2 separate regions of the Homo sapiens genome follow, and region 2 is linked to region 1. Evidence: fine-mapped QTL for protein levels in blood plasma. A gene starts in region 1. The other region holds a variant in brackets. All regions are shown on one strand. Distances are from middle to middle.

What was found. A credible set is the group of variants that fine-mapping cannot tell apart. PIP is the chance, under the fine-mapping model, that this variant and not a neighbour inherited with it causes the effect. Protein levels are from antibody-based Olink assays in UK Biobank. Linkage for the fine-mapping came from a reference panel and not from the study's own genotypes, which makes the PIPs less certain.
Region 2: its variant is the best candidate, but not a certain one, in a credible set for the plasma level of the FSHB protein (UK Biobank, PIP 0.55).

Annotation. Positions count from the first base shown.
Region 1 is chr11:30,224,521-30,235,857 of GRCh38, forward strand. FSHB (follicle stimulating hormone subunit beta) reads left to right here and starts at 6,494. Exons shown (of 3, transcript NM_001382289.1): 1 at 6,494-6,528; 2 at 7,346-7,541; 3 at 9,050-10,674. The coding sequence starts at 7,383. The coding sequence ends at 9,280. The region is part of intron 1 of ARL14EP-DT (ARL14EP divergent transcript); the gene reads right to left.
Region 2 is chr11:30,198,951-30,210,287 of GRCh38, forward strand. All of the region lies in intron 1 of ARL14EP-DT (ARL14EP divergent transcript), which reads right to left. Among named protein-coding and RNA genes, the nearest start is that of FSHB, 26 kb to the right of the region's middle. RefSeq lists an enhancer at 7,829-7,908. The variant G/A (reference allele first, on the strand shown) is at 6,031.

The DNA of each region.
Region 1 (11,337 bases):
ATTTTGAGGCCAGGCATGGTGGCTCACACCTGTAATCCCAACACTTTAGGAAGCCAAGGTGGGTGGATTGCTTGAGTCTAGGATTTTGAGACCAGCCTGGCCAACATGGCGAAATCCTGTCTCTACTAAAAATACTAAAATTAACCAGTCATGGTGGTGGTGTGCCTTTAGTCCCAGCTACTCTGGTGGCTGAGGCACAAGAATCACTTGAACCTGGGAGGCAGAGGTTGCAGTGAGCTGAGACTGTGCCACTTCACTCCAGCCTGGGTGACAGAGTAAGATTCTGTCTCAAAAAATATGTATATATACACACATATAATAGATACATAAACATATATAAATATATAATATATAAATATATATATTATATATAATATATAAACATATATAAAATATATATATATATATATATATAAACCAAACATAAAGGAATAATTTTGGGGGAAAATCTTCATAAATGAAAGAACAACATAGGCTGTTGAGTATATGCACAGAAATTCAAGAGATCTTCCAGCAATTGAAGACATTGGTTTACCAGAATTCACAAAAGAAGTCAGCTGTGCATTTAAAGTAGAATGTGATGAGTGTTACCACTGAGGTAGGAACTGGGAACTAAGGAAGCGTAAGACAGAAAGTGCTGAACTGAGAGTTGGGCATTGGAGGCTGTGTAAGGCAGGGTAAGTGAATGTCTCCTAGAAGCTACCTTTAAATGGAGTTTTGAAGTACTTGTAGGAGTAGCTTAGGTGAAAAGAAGAGGAGAAACATGTATCAGGCAGAGGGACTAGAACCTTATTACCTTCAAAGAAGAAGCAAAAAGAATACATGTGACTTTGAGGTGGTGGGAGGTGCTTTAAGCCAATATAGGTGAATTTGACATAGGACTTCCCTAAATAATGTTCGGTCATTTGTTAAATATTGAGTGATATATCACTGTATTAAAGCCCAAGAGTTGCTTTTATATAGAAAGAAGAAAAAAGCCCAAGAGAGTTTTATTTCTAGAGGGAATATTTTCTAGAAATAAAGGAAGGTGTATCAGCCAGTTTCTAGTCAGGAAAACAGAAATCACACCTGATATGCAAAATAGAGGAAAATCAGGGAATTCATTAATCCAGAGATTTGGTTGCTCAAGTATTAGATTGCTGAAAAGCCAGACAGGGAATATGAGGCAATCAGAGATAAGTATTAGTGACAAGCTCCATTTATGTGCAGGATTGGAGGGACATAGGTGGGGTTCCCAGAAGCCAGAAGGTGAGACCACCTAGCAGAAGCTCAAACCACAGCTGGGGTTTCCTCACAAAAGCTGGGACCACCAGGAGGAGCTGTCCAATGGGATCTGGAGCCAGGGAGATCATGCAGTCACTACCAGGAAGGGAAGCAGAATGTAAAAGGTAGAGAGAAATACTCCAACTGCTTCCTTGCATTCACTTTCCAATCTCCATTCACAAAGGCAAAAACCTGCTAATACAGCAGAGTGGGAAAAGCAGCCTGCCAAGGTCCTTTCTCCCACAAAACAGAGCACAAAACCAAGCAAAAACAAGGAATGCATTTGATAGCAAACAGGCTATGGACCAACCCAACATAAAAGAAATGATGAGTGATTTCTTTTTTCATTTGGTTCAAGAAAAGTATTTCAGTAACTATTATGTAACAGAAATTCTATTTATTTTGGGGAATTCAAAGGTGAATAAAAAAGAACTCTAAATTTTTATCAATAAAATATTTCAAAAACCTCAATGAGAGTAATGGCATTAACTAGCAAATATGCTAATGAGATGAGCTAGCCATAAGAGGCTTAGAATTGAGAGAAAGGTCTGGGGGCCTCTTGACAGGCCAAATTCAGAGCTGTTTGTGGGAATCTCTGACCTAACTGCAGGTGGAAATATAAATATGGGCATTTAGAATAGTGGCCCAAACTTTGGATGATTTCTGTCTTGGGGTCTCTCCAATTAATGGGATTGATGAGAACTGTAGACCACTGAGGTCACCATGGCTCAATGAATAGTCCCCTGGCTTTGGAGTCAAACTGACCTGAATATGAACCCCAGCTTTGCTACTTACAGGTTGCATTTATCCTCAGTTTTCTCATCTTTCAAAGAAGAACAGTAACTTCTTTAAAAGGTTATTGTAGGCTGGGTGCAGTGGCTCACGCCTGTAATCGCAGCACTTTGGGAGGCGGAGGCTAGTGGATCACTTGAGGCCAGGAGTTGGAAACTAGCCTGGCCAACATGGTGAAACTCTGTCTCTACAAAAAGAAATTTAAAAAATTTTGCTGGGTGTGGTGGCACACACCTGGAATTCCAGCTACCTGGGAGGCCGAGGCATGAGCATCACTTGAGTCTGGAAAGCAGAGGGTTGCAGTGAGCCAAGATTGTACCACTGTACTCAAGCCTGGGTGACACAGTGAGACCTTGTCTAAAAAAAAAAAGGTTATTGTGTTATTGTAAATATTGTATATGAACTTCTATTTAACATGTTTAGTTAAATGCCTGTGTAATTGTCCAATGTGCTCTTCTAGCTCACTGCACAGACAAAACTGATTCACTGAAATCATGGAATTGCAGCAAAGAACAAATCTAATTAATGTAGGTCAAACGGGAGGACTGGAGTTATTATTCAAATCAGTCTCCCTGAAAACTCAGAGGCTAGGGTTTTATGGATAATTTGGTGGGCAGGGGACTAGGGAATGGGTGCTGCTGATTGGTTGGGGAATGAAATAGTAAGATTGTGGAAAACTGTCCTCCTTCATTGAGTCTGCTTCCGGGTGTAGGCCACACGACCAGTTGAGTCATGAAGCATGCGTCCAAGTGGAGTCAGTTTGTTGCCAGAATGCAAAAGCCTGAAAAATGTCTCAAATGATCAACTGTAGGCTCCACAATAATGATATTATCTATAGGAGCAATTGGGGAAGTAACAAATCTTGTGACCTCTGGACACATAACTCCTGAACTAGTAAGGGATTATAAAAACCATGCCTATATCTTATCAGAATTCAGGTCCCCCCATAATCCTAATCTCACAGCATTTCATTTGTTTAGAAAGGCCATTTTCAGTCCCTGAGCAAGGAGGGGGTTAGTTTTAGGATAGGACTATTATCCTTGCTTCGTTAAACTATAAACTAAATTCCTCCCATGGTTAGCTTGGCCTACACCTAAGAATGAGTGAGAACAGCCAGCCTGTGAGGCTAGAGGCAAGATGGAGTCAGCCATGCTAGATTTATCTCACTGTCATAACCTTTGCAAAGGCAGTTTCACCTGGGACATAGGAGGTACTCAATGAAAAAGAAGCTATTAATATTAATATTTTAAAAATGAATTTAAGGAACTAATACTATGTACATATTAGTCATTAAAACAAAGTGGTTCATTTACATTCACACAAATAAATCTTGTGATTATACATAGGTAATATGAAAAACTTTGTTTTCTTTCATAATACAAGGTATTAGCAATAGATATAGTAATGTTAGCATTCCTTTGGAAAAAATGAAAAGATTTATAATTTTCCAAGAATCATTAGTATTTTTATTTAATATACATAATATAAAATTTATTCATTCTATAACTTGGAAATATGCTTGCTTACCAATTACTGACAGATTTCAAAATATTTCTATACTCACAATATTCATTTACATAAATATTGATTTGGTACTTACAATGTGTACTGCTATGCTAAGTTTTGTCTTTGTCAAACATATTTTATAAAATCATAATCCTAGATGAATCCAACTTTTGGTAACCCACGTGCCTGAACCCCTGCTGTTAACAGGCAAAGTGTGGTAGGTACAGATCTATACCTACCACCTTCCTCTACCCACCAGCATCTGCACCCACCACCCCTCCCCACCCACCATTATCTATACCAACCACCCCTCCCAACCTACCAGCATCTGCACCCACCACACCGCCCACCCACCACCATGTACACTCACCACACCTTCCAGCCATCACCATCTGCACCCATCACTCCTCCCCATCCACAAGCATCTGCACCCACCACATTTCCCTACCTACCAGCATCTTCACTCACCACCTCTCCACCCACCAGCATCTGCACCCACAACCCCTCCTCACCCACCAGAGTCTGCATCCATCACACTTGCCCACTCGCTAGCATCTGCACCATCAAGCTCTGCCTTCTTGCCTAATACGGGATGAGCTCTCCATGGTTCTGCCTAAAGACAATGCTTCCACTCCTCTTCTATAACCCATTTCCTTTTACCTCTTCAAGTACACTTCAGAACTTCTCTCTCCTTCTGATACCAACTTTTTCCACTTTACTCAATCATTCCTATCACCATACAAACGTGTTTATTTCTCCCATCTTAAAGTTAAAAATCAAAAGAAAATTGTCTGCGGCCAGGCACGGTGGCTCACGCCTGTAATCCCAACACTTTGGGAGGCCAAGGAGGGTTGGATGACTTAAGGTTAGGAGTTCAAGACCAGCCTGGCCAACATGGTGAAACCCATCTCTACTAAAAATACAAAAATTAGCCAGGCATGGTGGCACATGCCTGTAGTCTCAGGTACTTGGGAGGCTGAGGCCAGAGAATGGCTTGAACCCGGGAGGCAGAGGTTGCAGTGAGCCGAGATTGTGCCCTTGCACTCCAGCCTGGGTGACAGAGTGAGACTCCATCTCAAAAATAAAAAATAAAAATAAAACAAAAGAAAGTTATTTTTACCCAACATCCACATTAACCAAATACCCATTTCTTTATTGATCTTTGTAAAAAAAAGCTCTTGGAAAAATTGTCTATATTCACTATGACTTATCTCCTCCAAATCACTTAAACACATACCAATCAGGTTTTTGTTTTCATCATTCCAAAGTAACTTTTACAGCCAAGGACAGTAGCGAACTTTACATCGCATATGCATTGTGAAGTTCTTGATCCTCATCTTACTTAACCTGTCAGCAGTATCTGACACAGGTGTCACTGGCTCCTCCCTGAGATGCTCTCTTTATTTGGCTTTTGGGACACCATATTCTCCCCATTCCTACTTTCCTCAATGGCCCTCCTCAGTCTCCTTTGGAAAGAGGAAAAAGAAACTTCATTATCTCCTGGATGTAGTACAAACAACTCAAGCTCAACATGTGCATACTGAACTCCATTTCCTTTTCCCAAACTTCGACATTTACAGCCATCCCCTTTCAGCTGATAGCAAGTTTATCCTTCCAGCTACTCAAACCAGAATCTTTAGAGCCATCCTTGACCCTTTTCCTCCTCTCACACTCAACATCTATCCATCAGAAAATTTTGTTGGTTCTACTTTCAAAATGCATACAGAGTCAGAGCATGTCTCATTACCTCCAATAGCTACCATACTAGTCTGAACAAACATCATTTCTCACCTGGGTTATTGAACAAACATCATTTCTCACCTGGGTTATTGATAGCATCCTAACGGGTCTTCCTGTTTCTTGGTTCCCCTATATTAGCAACACAGCAGTCAGAGGAGTCCTTTTAGAACTCAATCAGATCATGTCACGTCACTCCTCTACTTAAAATCCTTCAATGGGTCCCATTACACAAAGAGTACAAACCAGAGCCCTTACACTGGTCTACAAGTTCCAACATTTGACTCCTGTTATCTCTCTGACATCATATTCTAATATTACTGCTGTTGTCCTTTTGCTCCAGTCACACTGTTTGATTAGTAAATATTTATTAAACAAAGCAATCCTAGTCTCCAAAGAGATCATAGTTTATTGGAGGAAACAAGAGCCTATAAATGGTTACACACAGAAGGTAGTGATTATGGTTCTCCCTCACCTCCCATCCTAAACTTTGACAGGTGAAACTCCCCTGGATGTTGAAGGTTGAGGAATTTGCCAGGGTTCAGGGTGGTGTTGGAGGAGGCAGGGAGGAAGCAAGGACATTTCAGGCAGGAAGAACATTACATGCAAAGATCTAAAGATATGAATCAGCAACATATTTATGGAATTACAAGTAAAGTAGAAAGTTCTTGCTAAAACATCAAAAAATAAAGATTTGTGATTAGGGGGCCAGAATGTGGGAGGGAAAGAGAGATACAGTTCACACTTTAGACAGGAGCCAGATCATGAAATGTTTTCTCTTTGTTTGTTTCTTCCTTCACAGCTTTTGATATGCTCTTGGAGCAATTTATTAACCATATTTTTTAATGCATCTCCTGAACAGAGTCAAAGCAATACTTGGAAAGGACTCTGAATTTCCTGATTTAAAGATACAAAAGAAAAATCTGGAGTCACAATTAATTTGAGAAGGTAAAGGAGTGGGTGTGCTACTGTATCAAATTTAATTTGTACAAAATCATCATCTCTAGTAACATTATTTTTTCTAATCTACTGCGTTTAGACTACTTTAGTAAAGCTTGATCTCCCTGTCTATCTAAACACTGATTCACTTACAGCAAGCTTCAGGCTAGCATTGGTCATATTAATACCCAACAAATCCACAAGGTGTTAGTTGCACATGATTTTGTATAAAAGGTGAACTGAGATTTCATTCAGTCTACAGCTCTTGCCAGGCAAGGCAGCCGACCACAGGTGAGTCTTGGCATCTACCGTTTTCAAGTGGTGACAGCTACTTTTGAAATTACAGATTTGTCAGGACATGGAGGACAAAACTAGAGCTTCTCACTACTGTTGTGTAGGAAATTTATGCTTGTCAACCTGGCTTGTAAAATATGGTTAATATAACGTAATCACTGTTAGCAAGTAACTGACTTTATAGACCAATATGCCTCTCTTCTGAAATGGTCTTATTTTAAACAAATGTGAGCAAAAGAAAATATTTATGAGATTCTAAAAATGAAGACATAATTTTGTAGTATAGAATTTTCTTGGCCAGGAATGGTGGCTCATGCTTGTAATCCCAGCACTTTGGGAGGCCAAGGTCAGAGGATTGCTTGAGCCTGGAAGGTTGAAGATGCAGTGATTCATGATTATACCACTGCACTCCAGCCTGGGCAACAGAGCAAGACCCTGTCTCAAGAAAAGAAAAGAATTTTATTTTTCTTTTCAGACAAAAATAGACTTTAAAATAATAATGGAAGAACAAATATGATGATCACAATTATCAGAGTAATTACTTTATGACAGTCAGCAATAAGATTCTAATCTTTAAATATTCCTCTGCTTAAATCATTATATTGGAGTTTTGATCTATAATATATTCCCACCCTGACCCAAAAATTGAAGAAGGACAAGGAAAAATGTTGTTCCAAGAAACAAAGATGTAAGTAAAAAGGCATAAGGAAGGAAAAAAAACTTTTGAAGCAAAATGTGATTGAGGAGGATGAGCAGACCAATTATTTTTGGTTTGGTCAGCTTACATAATGATTATCGTTCTTTGGTTTCTCAGTTTCTAGTGGGCTTCATTGTTTGCTTCCCAGACCAGGATGAAGACACTCCAGTTTTTCTTCCTTTTCTGTTGCTGGAAAGCAATCTGCTGCAATAGCTGTGAGCTGACCAACATCACCATTGCAATAGAGAAAGAAGAATGTCGTTTCTGCATAAGCATCAACACCACTTGGTGTGCTGGCTACTGCTACACCAGGGTAGGTACCATGTTTTGCTGGAAGCAAGGGTGTTGAAGGTCTGTATTAGGCCGGTTTCATTAGTTTCTACTTTATCAATATTTTATGTATTCTAAGTAACAGCCATGAGTCCTTTAGCCAAGACTGTCTGTGTTGTGATTGGGGTTAATGACCACGATATCACTTAGATGTTTGGGCTTGGATTTGATTTGGGTAAATTTAGGAAAGCCTCAGATTTAATCTGATCAATTTGGTACTAGTCCAACTTTGCATCTACAGGGAAAAAGTATTTCTATGTTACGTTTTTACACATAGAGAGATAAACATGGAAACATACATATATTTAATCATAAAGGACCTATAATATTCTCATAAAGGCAATTTCTTTAACTGACACTACATCTTTGACACAAAATCACACCAAAATATGTCTCCAAGTCACATAAAAACATAGACAGCCACTTAAAAAAATTGTCTTCCTGGCCCTACTAAATACAAATGCCAAAAAACAGCCTGAGAACACAATCAATTCTTGCAGACTGTTAGAACAAAAATGAATCAGCAAACCCACTCCCTTCGTTATAGCATTGAGAAAACCAAGACATAGAGGCATCAGTTGCTAGTCTGTGTTTGCAGTTTCCTTGCATTAATACAAGTAGAGAAATAGTTTCCATGGTGCTTTCTTTTTTCTCTGCAGCACCCCTAATTATCTATGCAGAATTTCATTCTATAAACTAAAATTGAAAATGGCAACTTTTTAAATGAACGATACTTTATTTGACGGTAAATGAGTTTGATCAAACTCCATTTATTACACAATTTATTGCACCTTCTTGGGATATACATTTGGTAGGATGATATTAAAATAAACAGAAGCCCCAATTTCTCTACGCAGTATAAATAATTTTTCCACTGGAAAGTGCTACTACAAATAATTTCTACCTGGATTAAAAATTCTTATATGCAAACTGCATATCCTTTGAAACTAGGAACCCTGCAAAGTATACAGCTTTCAAGGGAGAAAAATGTCCACAAGGAGTTGGAATATTTAAAATCTTATGTTAGCCTTAGCAAACATGTTAACTTAAGCATTAAAATTTAAAATTATATATTTTTGACCTTTTATAAATACTCAGGGCAGTGTATTTTAAAATATTTTTTCTGAGACATTGGATATCTTTGTTTATGGTTTGTTATTAATACAGCTTTCAATTAAATATGAAAAGTCAACTTAAAATCCTGTCATGTTTTTCATCATTTTTCTATGCTAAAATTCAAAGTTCCTTTATATTTTGAAAAATAGTTAATATTTTGATATAGCCATAGGAAGTAAGAAAAGAAATTACTTGTATTTTCTGGAAGATTTCAAGAACAATTTAGAAATGTAAATAGCATATAGGTCATTTATGAGGTCATGTTTTAATGGGTAAATGTTAGAGCAAGCAGTATTCAATTTCTGTCTCATTTTGACTAAGCTAAATAGGAACTTCCACAATACCATAACCTAACTCTCTTCTTAAACTCCTCAGGATCTGGTGTATAAGGACCCAGCCAGGCCCAAAATCCAGAAAACATGTACCTTCAAGGAACTGGTATACGAAACAGTGAGAGTGCCCGGCTGTGCTCACCATGCAGATTCCTTGTATACATACCCAGTGGCCACCCAGTGTCACTGTGGCAAGTGTGACAGCGACAGCACTGATTGTACTGTGCGAGGCCTGGGGCCCAGCTACTGCTCCTTTGGTGAAATGAAAGAATAAAGATCAGTGGACATTTCAGGCCACATACCCTTGTCCTGAAGGACCAAGATATTCAAAAAGTCTGTGTGTGTGCAATGTGCCCAGGGGACAAACCACTGGATCAGGGGATTCAGACTCTACTGATCCCTGGTCTACTGGCAGAGGGAACTCTGGGAATTGAGAGTGCTGGGGGCCAGGACTCCATCATGATTCAGCTCTATATTCCTAGGTCTGATTTCATAAGGTTTATTCAGTCTTAACTCACAGACTTGTGCCTGGTTTCTTCTTTAAAAATCTTAGAAATCTTCTCAGGCAATGCCTCTCTCTTAGGGGGAAACATAAGCCTAGAAGGAGGAAGCAGTAATGGGAGTGAGTGAAAGAACTAACTGCAGCAGTCTTCTGGTAGACTCTTGGGCCCTCTAGAGCAAGGTCAGCATCTTCAGCATTGTAGCGTCAATGCCTAGCACTCTGCCTGGAACTTAGAAACACAACAATGACTTCTTTAGATCAGAAAGGTCAAGGGTAGAAAATACTGGAAGACGATGTTTGAGGTAAGCTGATGAGGCTGCCCGCAGCCACACCAGTCCCATGAAAGTTAGTGGCATCAGTTCCACCTCGCCTTTTCTCCAGCACATGGAGTATTGAGACATGATGTATCTTTCTGAATTGTTTGGTACAGATGGGGAGTAACAGAGCTCAAGATTTCCAAGCTATTACTACCAAGCCTGTTAGTTAAGGGCAAAGGCAAGAAATTGTAATTTGGGGCTGTGGAAATTAGCCTGCCTCTATTCATTACTTAAACAAATTGATCACATGCTACTAGGCTCCTGCAAAACTCCTTTTTGAGATAAAGGGAAAAAACCAAACTATCTCACCCTACCCTCCCTAGGATCCACTTCTTTGGAATGACAAAGGATTTGAAAGTAGGTTTGAAAGCAGTTTCAGCAATTTAATAAATATAATTAATTTGTCTACAAATATATTTGTATAAATAAATAGCTCCTTTAGAAAGAATTAGCCATGGGGGACGAGGGGAAACTGCTGTTTTCTAGGATCCTGTCTACATCAATCTTCTATTTTATCCATCCATGTTCTCCCAAATCTGTGCTTTCTTTCAACAGGTTATATATTAAAACTATTTCATGAGTTGATTTCTTTTAAACGTGTTAACTGTCTTAGTTATGCACTCAGTTTCACACTCATATTGTTTAACTAATTTATTTAAATCTTATTTTTTTAATAAAGATGCTAGCCACCAGAGTCACAGGCTTGGATTGTTTTATGTACAAACAGATGACTTAGATATTCTGTATTTTATAATATTAGTGGAATGAAATCTTAAAATATAATTCCCAGTGTTTCTATAAATATTACCTTTCCTTATCTTTGGAGATATTAAAAATAATTTTGTTGGATTTCTGAAGTGTTTTGTCACTTAAATTTCCTGTCATTTTTTGAAGACATTTTCTGATGTAATTTGGGAGAAAAAAAGCATAGAGAGAATCACAGAATGGGTGGAGATACTAGAGTTTCTATAGTTTACTTCTTGAATTTTTGAGATGGAAAAATTAAAGCCCAGTGATATTAAGTGGCCCACCCAAGATCACTGTCCTAGTCCTTTTGGGCTGCTATGACAGAATACCTTAGACTGGGTAATTAATAAACAACAGAAATTTATTGCTCACAGTCTGTAGGCTGGGAGGTCCAAGATCAAGGTGCCAGCGGATTTCTTGTCTGGGGAGGGAGGGCCTGCTCCCTACTTCAATGCTGGTGACTTTTTGCTGCATCCTCATACAGTGGAAACAACGGAAAGCTCCCTCAAGTCTCTTTTATAAGAGCACTAATCTCATACATAAGAGGTCCATTTTCATGATCTAATCACCTCCTAAGGCCCAACTTCTTAATACCACCACAATAAAGATCAGGGTTCAACATGAATCTTGGAGCAACATAAACGTTCAGACCACAGCAATCACAAAGACTGTTTGTGGCAGAGCCAGGATTAGAATCCTAGCCTCCTTGCTCTTAATCCGGCTCTCCTTTGACTACTCCACCATAATAAGAAGTCATTTTGGTAA
Region 2 (11,337 bases), 26 kb before region 1:
TGTTGTTGTTTTATAATAGAGTAAAACATTGGGCACTGTGCTAGGTAGAAAAATGCCCTCTCCTCCACCTCTAAGATGTCCACATCTTGATCTTTGGAACCTGTGATTATGTTAGGTTACACAGCAAAGGGGAGTTAAGGTTGCCATCGGAATTAACATTGTTAATCAGATGGCCTTGAAATAGAGGAGATTATCCTGAATTATCTAGGTGGGTCAAATGTAATTGCAGTAATTCTTTTTTATTATTATTATTATACTTTAAGTTTTAGGGTACATGTGCACATTGTGCAGGTTAGTTACATATGTATACATGTGCCATGCTGGTGTGCTGCACCCATTAACTCGTCATCTAGCATTAGGTATATCTCCCAGTGCTATCCCTCCCCCCTCCCCCCACCCCACAACAGTCCCCAGAGTGTGATATTCCCCTTCCTGTGTCCATGTGATCTCATTGTTCAATTCCCACCTATGAGTAAGAATATGCGGTGTTTGGTTTTTTGTTCTTGTGATAGTTTACTAAGTATGATGATTTCCAGCTTCATCCATGTCCCTACAAAGGACATGAACTCATCATTTTTTATGGCTGCATAGTATTCCATGGTGTATATGTGCCATATTTTCTTAATCCAGTCTATCATTGTTGGACATTTGGGTTGGTTCCAAGTCTTTGCTATTGTGAATAATGCCTCAATAAACATACGTGTGCATGTGTCTTTATAGCAGCATGAATGGCAATCATTAAAAAGTCAGGAAACAACAGGTGTTGGAGAGGATGTGGAGAAATAGGAACACTTTTACACTGTTGGTGGGACTGTAAACTAGTTCAACCATTGTGGAAGTTAGTGTGGCGATTCCTCAGGGATCTAGAACTAGAAATACCATTTGACCCAGCCATCCCATTACTGGGTATATACCCAAAGGACTATAAATCATGCAGTAATTCTTAAAAGTAGATGAACAAGGCCAAATAGAAGCAATCAAAGGAAGATGTGGCCACAGAAGAGAGGCACAGAGAGATCGATGTTGCTGGCTTTGAAGATGGAGGAAGGGGGCCACAAGTCAAGGAATGTGGGTGACCTCTGAAAGCAGGAAAAAGCATGAAAACATTCTTCTAGAACCTCCAGAAAGTAACATCGCCCTGCCAACACATTGAATTTAGCCCACTGACACCATTTTGCACTTCTGGAACTGTAAGGTAGTAAGTTTGAGTTGTTTAAGACACTAAGTTTATGATATTTTGTTACAGCATCAGTAGAAAACTGATTTTAGGTAGAAATGCTTTTAGCTGCAAGTGTCAAAAAAACAAATAAACACAAAAAACTAGTGACCTCAATAACTATGGACTTATGATTTTCAATAACGAGAAGCTTGGAGTTAGTGGCATGGTAGTTCAGCTACTCAATGATGTTACGAACGACTCAGGTTCCCCATTCCCCGAAGACTCTCCATCTCTTTTGCCAATCTGACTTTATGTCTTACTGGAAACTGGGTTATACAGCTATACCTAGCTGCAAGGGAAGGTAGAAAGTCTAGTAAACAGTAATAGCATTATCAAGACTAGATCAGCCCAATCATAAATAATTGCTTGGAGCTGCGTATATTGCTGCCCTGAAACAAACTAGCAAGGACACGGGGAGATAAGGAGGTAAATAATCTTTGGCAAAGACATGGTCTAATATCTGCCTGACTCTGAGCAACCTACAAGTCACAAGGGTGTTGGGACAATTATTCATTTCTGCAAGCTCTACAAATCTAAATAGGGCACTTAAAACCAGTTGCATCCAAACAGAGGCATACTACATGTAAAGGGAAGAGGCTAGGGTACATGAATAAATCATGCATAAGAATTAGTACTTAAAATAGATATAAAGGATGAAAGTTACCATTACCGTTTATGAGATAAGGAGACTATCTCCTAGGCCAAGAGAGGTTAAGTGATGTGCCCAAACCCACCTAGTGGGCAAAAGTCTAAGTCCAGAATCTCCTGCTTTCTTCTTCTGCTTTCTTCTGGTTGCAAGAGTAAGTGGATAATCAGTGCTAGCTGGATGCTAGTAGTTTAGAACTTCACAAATCTCTCTCAGAGAGCATCTGAAGGAGGGCAGCCAAGCTGCTATTACTGTGGCCACTGATTGAGGCCAGTTCTGAGGACTGACAAAGGAAAGCATGGAAAGTGGTGTATGCTTTTTGTCCACTTACCACTGGAACTCTTGAATCAGGGTATGATTCCCCTTCTGCCAAAAATAGTTAAGCTTTGCATAATTGCAAACTCTACAGAAATTGAAGGCAATTTATATTCTTAGTTATAAAAACTAATCATTCCTTTTCCGTGGTGTGATGGCTAATTTTATGTCTCCACTTGACTGGGTTAAGGGATGCCCAGATAGCTGGTAAAACATTATTTCGGGCATGTCTGTCAAGGTCTTTTCAGAAGAGATTAGCATTTGAGTCCATAAACCGAGTAAAGATCCTCCCTCACTGATATAGTCAGGCATCATCCAATTCTTTGAGGGCTTGAATGAAACAAACGTCAAGAAAGGGCAAATGTACTCTCTTCTCTTGAGCTGGGACATCCACCTTCTGCCTTCGGATATCAGAACTCCTGGTTCTTACGCTTCACATTCCAGAACTTACACCACAAGCCCCCTGGTTCTCAAGCCCTTTGAACTCAGGTTGAATACCACTGACCTTCCAGGTTCTCCAGCTTACAGATGGCATATTGTGAGACTTCTTAGCTTCTATAATCCTAGGAGCCCATTCTCATGATAAATCCTCTTTTATATATCTATATCTAGATATCTAGATCTATCCTACCAGTTCTGTTTCTCTGGAGAACCCTGACTAATATACCTGATATCAAAGAGTTATTTCAGGATTATGATCACTTCCAAGAGGGAAGGAAAAAGAATGGGATCAAAAGAACTCCATAGAGACTGTCAAGTAAAACTGTAATGTTTCATCTTTCAGAAAAATAAAACACCTGTATAAAAAACAAAACTGGCACAATATTAAGAAATATAAAACTAGTTGATGGGTATAAAGGGTTTTTTTATAGTACACTCTTTTCTACATACTTAAGGTATCTCCTTATTGGGAAATATTACAAATAAGAAGATAATCTAAACTCCACAATAAAAAGGAGGTTGTATTTATGCATTAAGTATGTGTGTGTTGGTGCTGGCTATGAGCTAGGCACTCTTCTAGAAGCTAAATACCTGCAAAGTCACTACCCTCATGGAGATTACATTCTAGGCAAGGCAGACAGAAATAAAACAAATTCACTTCAGTAAATGTTAAATAGTCTGAAGGAATAAAACAAAGGAATGTGATAAAAGTGACCCAGAAGATGTTTTCTATGAGGTGGACCGAAAGACAAACATCACTGAGGAGGTAGCATTTGTTCTGAGATGTGAACAATAAATCAAGTCATTCAAAAAATAAGAATAGTACTCCACAAAAAACAATCAGAAAATGCAAAGGCCTGGAGACCTTTTAATACTGCAAGAACCAATAACTAGCCCAAGGCATAGCAAGTAAGGTGATGAGAGATGCGATTAGAAAGACAGTTGTGAGGGCTTTGTGGTCATGGCAAGACATGTAGATTTTATTTGAAATGCAATGGGCTGCCAATGGATGGAGGGCTGAGGGAAGGGGTTGTAAGGAAGGGAACAAGAACATATTTTACATTAATATGTTATAATCATTTTTTAATAGCACTCTGCTCAATGGGCAATTCAGGAAAAGCAAGAAAAAACAGGTACATGATAATAGGCTATAGTAGTAATTCAAGCAAGAGATGACGCTGGCTTGGAAACAAATCTTAGATTTCTTGTACAGACTTACAAGTCTGACATATGAGAAGGTTAAAGAATAGTATGATAGTAACTTATCATGTTTCCCAGAAAAAAAAATGCATATTCTTTACATGGCAGAAGGTTGGGAAATATTTATATGAATGTGATGAGATTTCAGGTGACTTTATTATCTTCTCTAGATGATTATTTATATATTCTTACTTTTTTTTAATTGACCAGACGTTATTTCTGATTTCCAAATCAGTACAATGTCCAGGAAATCATAATACCCTCTTCCATCTGGCTGTCTTGACAAATGCCTTAGAGAGAGTTCTACTTACTGGCCCTTAGACTCGAACTTTGGACTTCATCCCTATGAGTGCCTGATTTTCACGGCCTGGGAGGGAGGTGATGGTAGGGCTTCATATTTATTTATTTATTTATTTATTTATTTATTTATTTATTTATTTTTGAGATGGAGTCTTGCTCTTTCACCAGGCTGGAGTGCAGTGACATGATCTCAGCTCACTGCTACCTCCACTTCCCGGGTTCAAGTGATTCCTCTGCCTCAGCCTCCCAAGTAACTGGGACTACAGGCACGCACCACCACGCCCAGCTAATTTTTGTATTTTTAGTAGAGACGGGATTTCACCATGTTGGTCAGGATGCTCAATCTCTCAACCTAGTGATCTTCCCACCTTGGCCTCCCAAACTACTGGGATTACAGGTGTGAGCCACCGTGCCTGGCCACGGCTTAATTTTAAATATGTTAAGTGTAAGATGTCCACATTGGTTTGCTAGGGCTGCCGTAACAAAGTACCACATATTGAGTGGCTTAAACCACAGAAATTATTTTTCTCACAATTCTAAAGGCTAGAAGTGCAAGAACAAAGGAATCTTCTGAGGCCTCTCTCCTTGGCTTGTAGATGGCCACCTTCTCCCTGTGTCTTTACATGATCTTTCCTATTTGTGTGTCTGTGTCCTAATCTCTTCTTCTTCTAAGAGCACCAGTCATATTTGATTAGGGCCAGCTAACGACCTTAGTTTAACTTAATTACCTCTTTAAAGAACCTATTTCCAAATATAGTCACATTCAGAGGTAATAGAGATTAGGACTTCAACATACAAATATGGGGGGTAGGGTGGACACAGTTCAGCCCATAACAAAGTCTACCCATGCTGGGCAGGTGGAGGAAGATTTTTAAAGGTTATCAGAAACATGACTCTGCAGTTCAGTTTAGTACACTTGCTGGGAGGTAAATGCGTTAGAGTCTTTCATCTATAAATATGAATGAGCTCACCCTAGGAGAGCTCATAGCATGAGAAAAGTCAATGACAGAAGGAAGCAGAAGGAAAAAGCCTGAGAAAGAGATAGACAAGCTGTGGGCCAAGCAGCAGGAGGAAGACTAGAAGAGAATAAGGACATGCAAGTTTCAAGAAGGGTGGTCAACAGTGTCAAACTGCAGGTCCTGAAAATGTACCCTACAAACAACCCATCTAAGGCCCCTCTTGGATGAAACTTCCAACCTCAGCTCAAACCTCCCACCATGGCTTCCACTGGCAATAAAACAAAATGTAAGCTCAGCCTATCATCCAAGGCCCTCCAGAGTATGATTCTAATTCCCTTTTAAACTTTATGTACCTTTAGTACCCTTCAGCATCCTTCAGCATTAGTGACACAGCATTGTTCCCTAGCTCTGACCCAAAGCTCTGTGGTCTCTTCCTTTTGTGCATGTTACCCCCTCACACAGGAATGCCCTTCCCATTCATCCTGCACACCCTTCAAGGACACCAAAACCCTTAGCAATTTTTCTATACCAAGTTGATTTCTGCATATGTCTATCTGCTGCACTGGGCTGTGGACTCTTTAGGGAAAATCTTGTCTGCTATTTATCGTTGGCACCTCTTGAAGCCTGCCATGGTTCCTGGTACCTAGCAGGTGCTCAAAAAATGGCTTTTTGAATCAATGAACTAATGCTGTTTTGCTCCAAACAGAATTAAATAATAATCCAGCAGCTGACATTTGAAAATGTCGATGCTATTGACTCACCTGTTTGGGGGAAGGGATAAGTTTTCTTTGATGACTTAGTGGCTTTCACATCTGTCAGACGTGTCGTATCCCCTTTAATGGTGGTTGCTTATTACAAGGAGAAACAGTTACTCAGGATTCAGGTAGTTTTGTACAGTGGATTATTATGTCTAGAATTTAATAGCACTCTGCTCTTTGATATTTATTTCA[G/A]GGTCAATAGAAATGTAACCATTCTCACTCCCTATTTGTGTTCAATCTAACCATTTAGCAGGAGGATTAGACCTGCCACACACTGGGTTTTGAAGATTTAAGAATGATTTGTTTGATTTTGATGCTATGTTTCCCAAATACATTCACAGGCAATAATTACATTATTAATATTTTAATCTTTTGAAAGTGTTAACATTCTTCTTAACATGTTAATCTCTGAATATTGAGGATGATGTGTGTATCAGGTTGTTGGCTTGTGTACAAATTTTTTTCTACAATGTTTTAGGGTGATTATGTGTAGAAATAACATAGGGTACTGCTTCCTTCAAGGCCTTTATCAAAATCAAATTGGAATTCTATCGTGAAGAAAGGGTGTTAAGGCATTCACTACTGTAATATGTTCTGTATGATATTGTTCAAAACCTTTCTGTGTCCATTGACACAGGTGACAATGCTTTGAGATAGTTTGGCTACAGTTATTGTCACCATTTTCTTACAAAAACCTTAGATACAAAGAAAGTTTATTTATTTTTCAGAGACAGGGTCTCCTCTGTCACCCAAGCTGGAGTGCAGTGGCATGATCACAGCTCGCTGTAGCCTCAAACTCCTGGGCTCAAGTGATCCTCCCACCTCAGTCTCACAAGTAGCTGGGACCACAGGTGCATGCAGCCATGCCTGGCTAATTTTTATATTTTTTGTAAAGAAGAGGCTTGACTATATTGTCTAGGCTGGTCTCAAACTCGTGGGCTCAAGCAATCCTCCCACCTCTCAGCCTCCCAAAGTGCTGGGATTACAGGCATGAGCCACTGCACCTGGCCAATGTTGCTGTTATTATTATCATCATTACTACATTCTAGGCTATATTTGTACTCTTAGAACAATGTTATAAGGGTATTAAGGATAAATTAGTCAAATGTCTTCCTTGTATGAATTTTATATAAACTAGGATCATGAAATATAATTAACTAATTGATGATATTCTAGAAGATAGAGTATTTAGATGCTCCGGAACTGGAATTCAATCAACTGTGAGAATTAAAATATCCAGTCTCCTCAATGTAATAGAGACAAATTCTCTAGTGGAAATGGTTCAGCAAGGATTTATTAAAACTTTTCTATAGGAGAAAAAGGCTCAGAGGATTTCACCATAAGTAGAAAATATGTAGAATCAAACTTAAACCTGAAGGCTTTGATCTTTCCTTTATAAAATTCAGCAGAAGTCCTTTCAAGAAATGTAATCCATTTTAAATATTTACCAAACCTTATTCTCAGCTGAAATGGGTGTCAAATCTCAAATTAGAAAGTCTCCTTTTTGGTTCTGGTCCCTTTGGATTTGGTTGCAGCATTTCCTATTATCTGTACTATAAAGAGAAGAGCCTTAGCACAAAAAGCTTCACTATCAGTGATGGAAATTGACAAATCAGTGAAAGAAAAACAAGGCAGCCAAAGAGGAAGTGGATCTCCTGTGTGTTCTTTAAAGGGGAAAACCACTTTTTTGACTATTAAGAACACAATGAAAGTAAAGCCTTAAGACAATATTTCCACCACAGACACAAGGGATGAATATTAAGCCTCTATTATGAGCCAGATAATACATATATCCTATGAATCTATCTTCACATAACCTTATAACAAAAGAATATTATTTCTCATCAATCTAAAATGCTTCAGAGACTCAGAGAAGTGAGTGGCCTGTGGTCACACAGCTAGTGAAACACAAAAGTGAATTTCAGTCCCAAAACCTGAATCCCCTCAGATACCTCAGGCTGTCCTTTTTCAACTGCTCAACAAAAGTTTACAGAAGTGCATCATTTTAAGCCGATTAGGAAACAGCTGGAGAAACGATAATATATAGATTCTACTCTCTGGGTGTTTATAGCCCCAGAAGACAGAACAGCAAATGTGTTAAGACAGCCGTGAGAAGACTAAAAAAAGGAAGCCACAGAAGAGCAGCCGAAACTCATACCTGCTCGGTCATTACAGGTCTCAAAAGGGATTGCACTTTCAAAGACACATCTGTGACACCATATAGATTTATAAGTATGCAAACTGAGAAAACATCATGAATTAATTTCATTAGCAGAACCCCAGAAATTCCATCCCTAAGCGGCCACCTAGGGTTGATCTCTAGGCATTTTTGAATTTTACTTATTTACTTTTTTGAGATAAAAACATTTTGCCTTTAATAATCTTTAAGGTATCGACTCTATTATTCCCTACACTTATGGTATTATAGTTTTCCACATTAGTTAGCAAGGTTAATTTATTAAAATACAATAAAAATTTATTGCCTACTAAATACATAATATTAATTATAAAACCAGTACCTACAGAGTTACCAACCCAGTATGGATTGCAGAATAAGGATGAGAAGAAGGTAATTGAATGACTACCAACCATGTTTTAAAACACAAAGACAACTTTCTTCTCAGAGATACCTGTTAACCTTCAACATCTCAGTTAAGTTTTAAAGGATACTGTTCTGTTTTGGTTAAAGAAAAGTATAGATTCATACAACTGTATCTTAAGCTTCAGACAAATTAGAATTAACTGCTTTATAATTTCTCCTACATTGGCACACCAGCCAGAATAATGAGGGCTGATGCTATGCTGAAATTAGAGTGAATCTAAAATCATAAGTCACAAAGAGTTTTTACAGTCTATAAATTGTCTCTTTTCCTGTCACGCCTACCCCATATGCAGTCACCATCATAGTAAACTATCATTCACAGTAAACTATCATTTTTCCTACCATGTTCTTTTATCTCAGTCAGGATGATAGGATTTTCAATTCTTCTGTCTTCATCCATCATCAAAACTTTATTGGGCTCCTGCTATGTGCTAGGCAACATACCATGAGCTGGAAATACCGGAAAAAGAATGAAAGGACCCATCTTCTCCCAGATATATACTAACTGTTTACCCCAAGAGCAAATCTCCTTGCTTAAATAGTAGTAGCAAGAGATGAGTAAAGTGGTTAAGCTAGCCTAGGAATGGCAAATAAGATAGCTCAGCAAAGCAATTAGGAGCCCTGGAGTCAGATTGTTGACACTCAAATCTTGATTCCACCTAGTTGTTTGACCTTGAACAAGTCACTAAAGTCTTCTGTGCCTGTCTCCTCATCATTAAAATATAAATAATAATAGTACTTAGCACATATCATTGTTCCAGGATTTAAAAAGAGAATACATGTTGATTACTTAGAATAATTTCTAGCACATAAATGTTCCATAAATGTTGGTGTGTCTTTCTTGCTAAGCTGATTAGTACTTATAACTAGTTGGGGTTTTAGGGGTACAGACATGATAAATAGGGATGCAAAATATTTATTAGAGAGTGATACCTGTAAAGGAAAATGAAGAAAAGGAAGGAATGGGCAGGGAGAGTGATCTTTACTTGCCTATCTGGGAGCTCTGGAGGACAGATTGTCCTTTAGAGGTGTCCCACATTGGAGAGAAATGGCTGGGTCCTTGCACCACAGCCCTGCTCAAGCATTGGAAAGGAGATGCCCATGGAAGAACCTCAACTCAAAAGCCGAGACAGATCCTGAAGGACCTAATAGCTGAAGGCTGCTAGTAACTCTACTCTTGGCAGGTAGGCAGCAAGTCCTTTCCCAAAGGGAGACCTGAGCATGCGTCTCCCTCCATCTTGGCTACAGGGGTTATTGTCTGGTGTGTTGGCCTGGAAGGGTTCTCAGGAAGTGTTGAGATTCAATGGACAAAGGCAAGTGGAGACATCATGATTGACTGAGACGTCAACCACAGGCCTTGAGCAAGAAGGAGAAGCCTACTTGCAGGAATTGGTTCTACTAGAACAGATTGTCTCAAAAGCTCCCCCACCTCTGACAAGCCCTGTTCTCTATTCCTTCTCCAGTAGTTTCTCTAAGACCCCAAGGATGGCAGAAGGGCCCGGACGCTAGGACCCTTCCTGCTTCCTAAACACTGTACTGCATATACCATGCTCTTCTGAGGGAGGAGTTACAGAATCCTAGAGTATCACCCAAGCTCCACCCTCAGCCTTGGCTATGTGTGCTCTTCCTGGTACCTCTTCTAAGGGCCAGAAATTCTCAGATGCATTCGGTGTCAGTCCACACCTGGAAGAGCCAGAGCTTGACATAGACAGAGCACCACTAATTATTTGCACCCCACTTTATTCCAAAATGGATTTACAGAATCTTCAAAAACAGTATACTGGCTCAGGAGATAGAGACCATCCTGGCTAACAAGGTGAAAACCCGTCTCTACTAAAAATACAAAAAATTAGCTGGGCATGGTGGCACACACCTATAGTTCCAGCTACTCAGGAGGCTGAGGGAAGAGAATCACTTGAACCCGGGAAGCGGATGTTGCAGTGAGCCGAGATCGCACCACGGCACTCCAGCCTGGGTGACAGAGTGAGACTCCATCTCAAAAAAAAAAAAAAAAAAAAAAGTATACCTAGGTGAATTCGTCTAATAAGGACTTTTATCTAAATTAATGGTATACAAGTGAAGGGAAACTAACAAAATATAGGCAGTGCAAATGTGGGGAAAGTTTCTGCAGAAAAATGGCTTTGGATAAAAGTAAAATGCTATCAGGGAACAAAGTCAGAATTATCATCTCAAATAGGTAATAGATAATTTAAACACTTGGGTATTTTCTTGTTTTGCAACTGTGCTCTCAGCAGTAGGAATCTGTGATTTAGTAATAGGGCTCATTTTTGCTGTCCATCGCATTTCATTTATGGATAGGCACAGTGAGCCTCCAGGTTGTGGCGGCTGCGTGTTCAGCTGCACCTGCCAGAGAGCAGGAAGGCTGAGCAGCTGATGGCAATATCTAGTTCTATCTCTCACCTGGTGGCAGCCACCTGCACTGGGGTAAATCTCCTAGGAAAAACTAGAAGTCTTAATTGCAGTTTTAAAGTCTTAAACCTCAGAACTCCAAGTATACAAAGGAAATAAGACAGCCTCTGATGTTGCTACCTGAATTTCTGATTCCAAATGCCAGTTTACATTTTAAAGAATATTTCTTTGTGAAGTCTAACTCTCATGGTCATAAGCAGTGCCTAGAATGGATCTGGTTTATCAGTTCAGTAAATGCTTGCTGACTGTTCAAGAAATAACAAGGCAAAACTGTTCCCCATCCTTGAAGTTCATGAAACAGGTTTGTTAAGTTTAAGACCAACACTCGTCATATATTATATGTTGGTCCTAATGTCCTGTTAATGAGTTTGAATCACGGGTATACCTTGCCCTTTTCCCCCTTACTCACCACCCTCATCTATCTAAACCATCATCAACATCTCACTGCCTCTCGAGCCCGTTAGGAC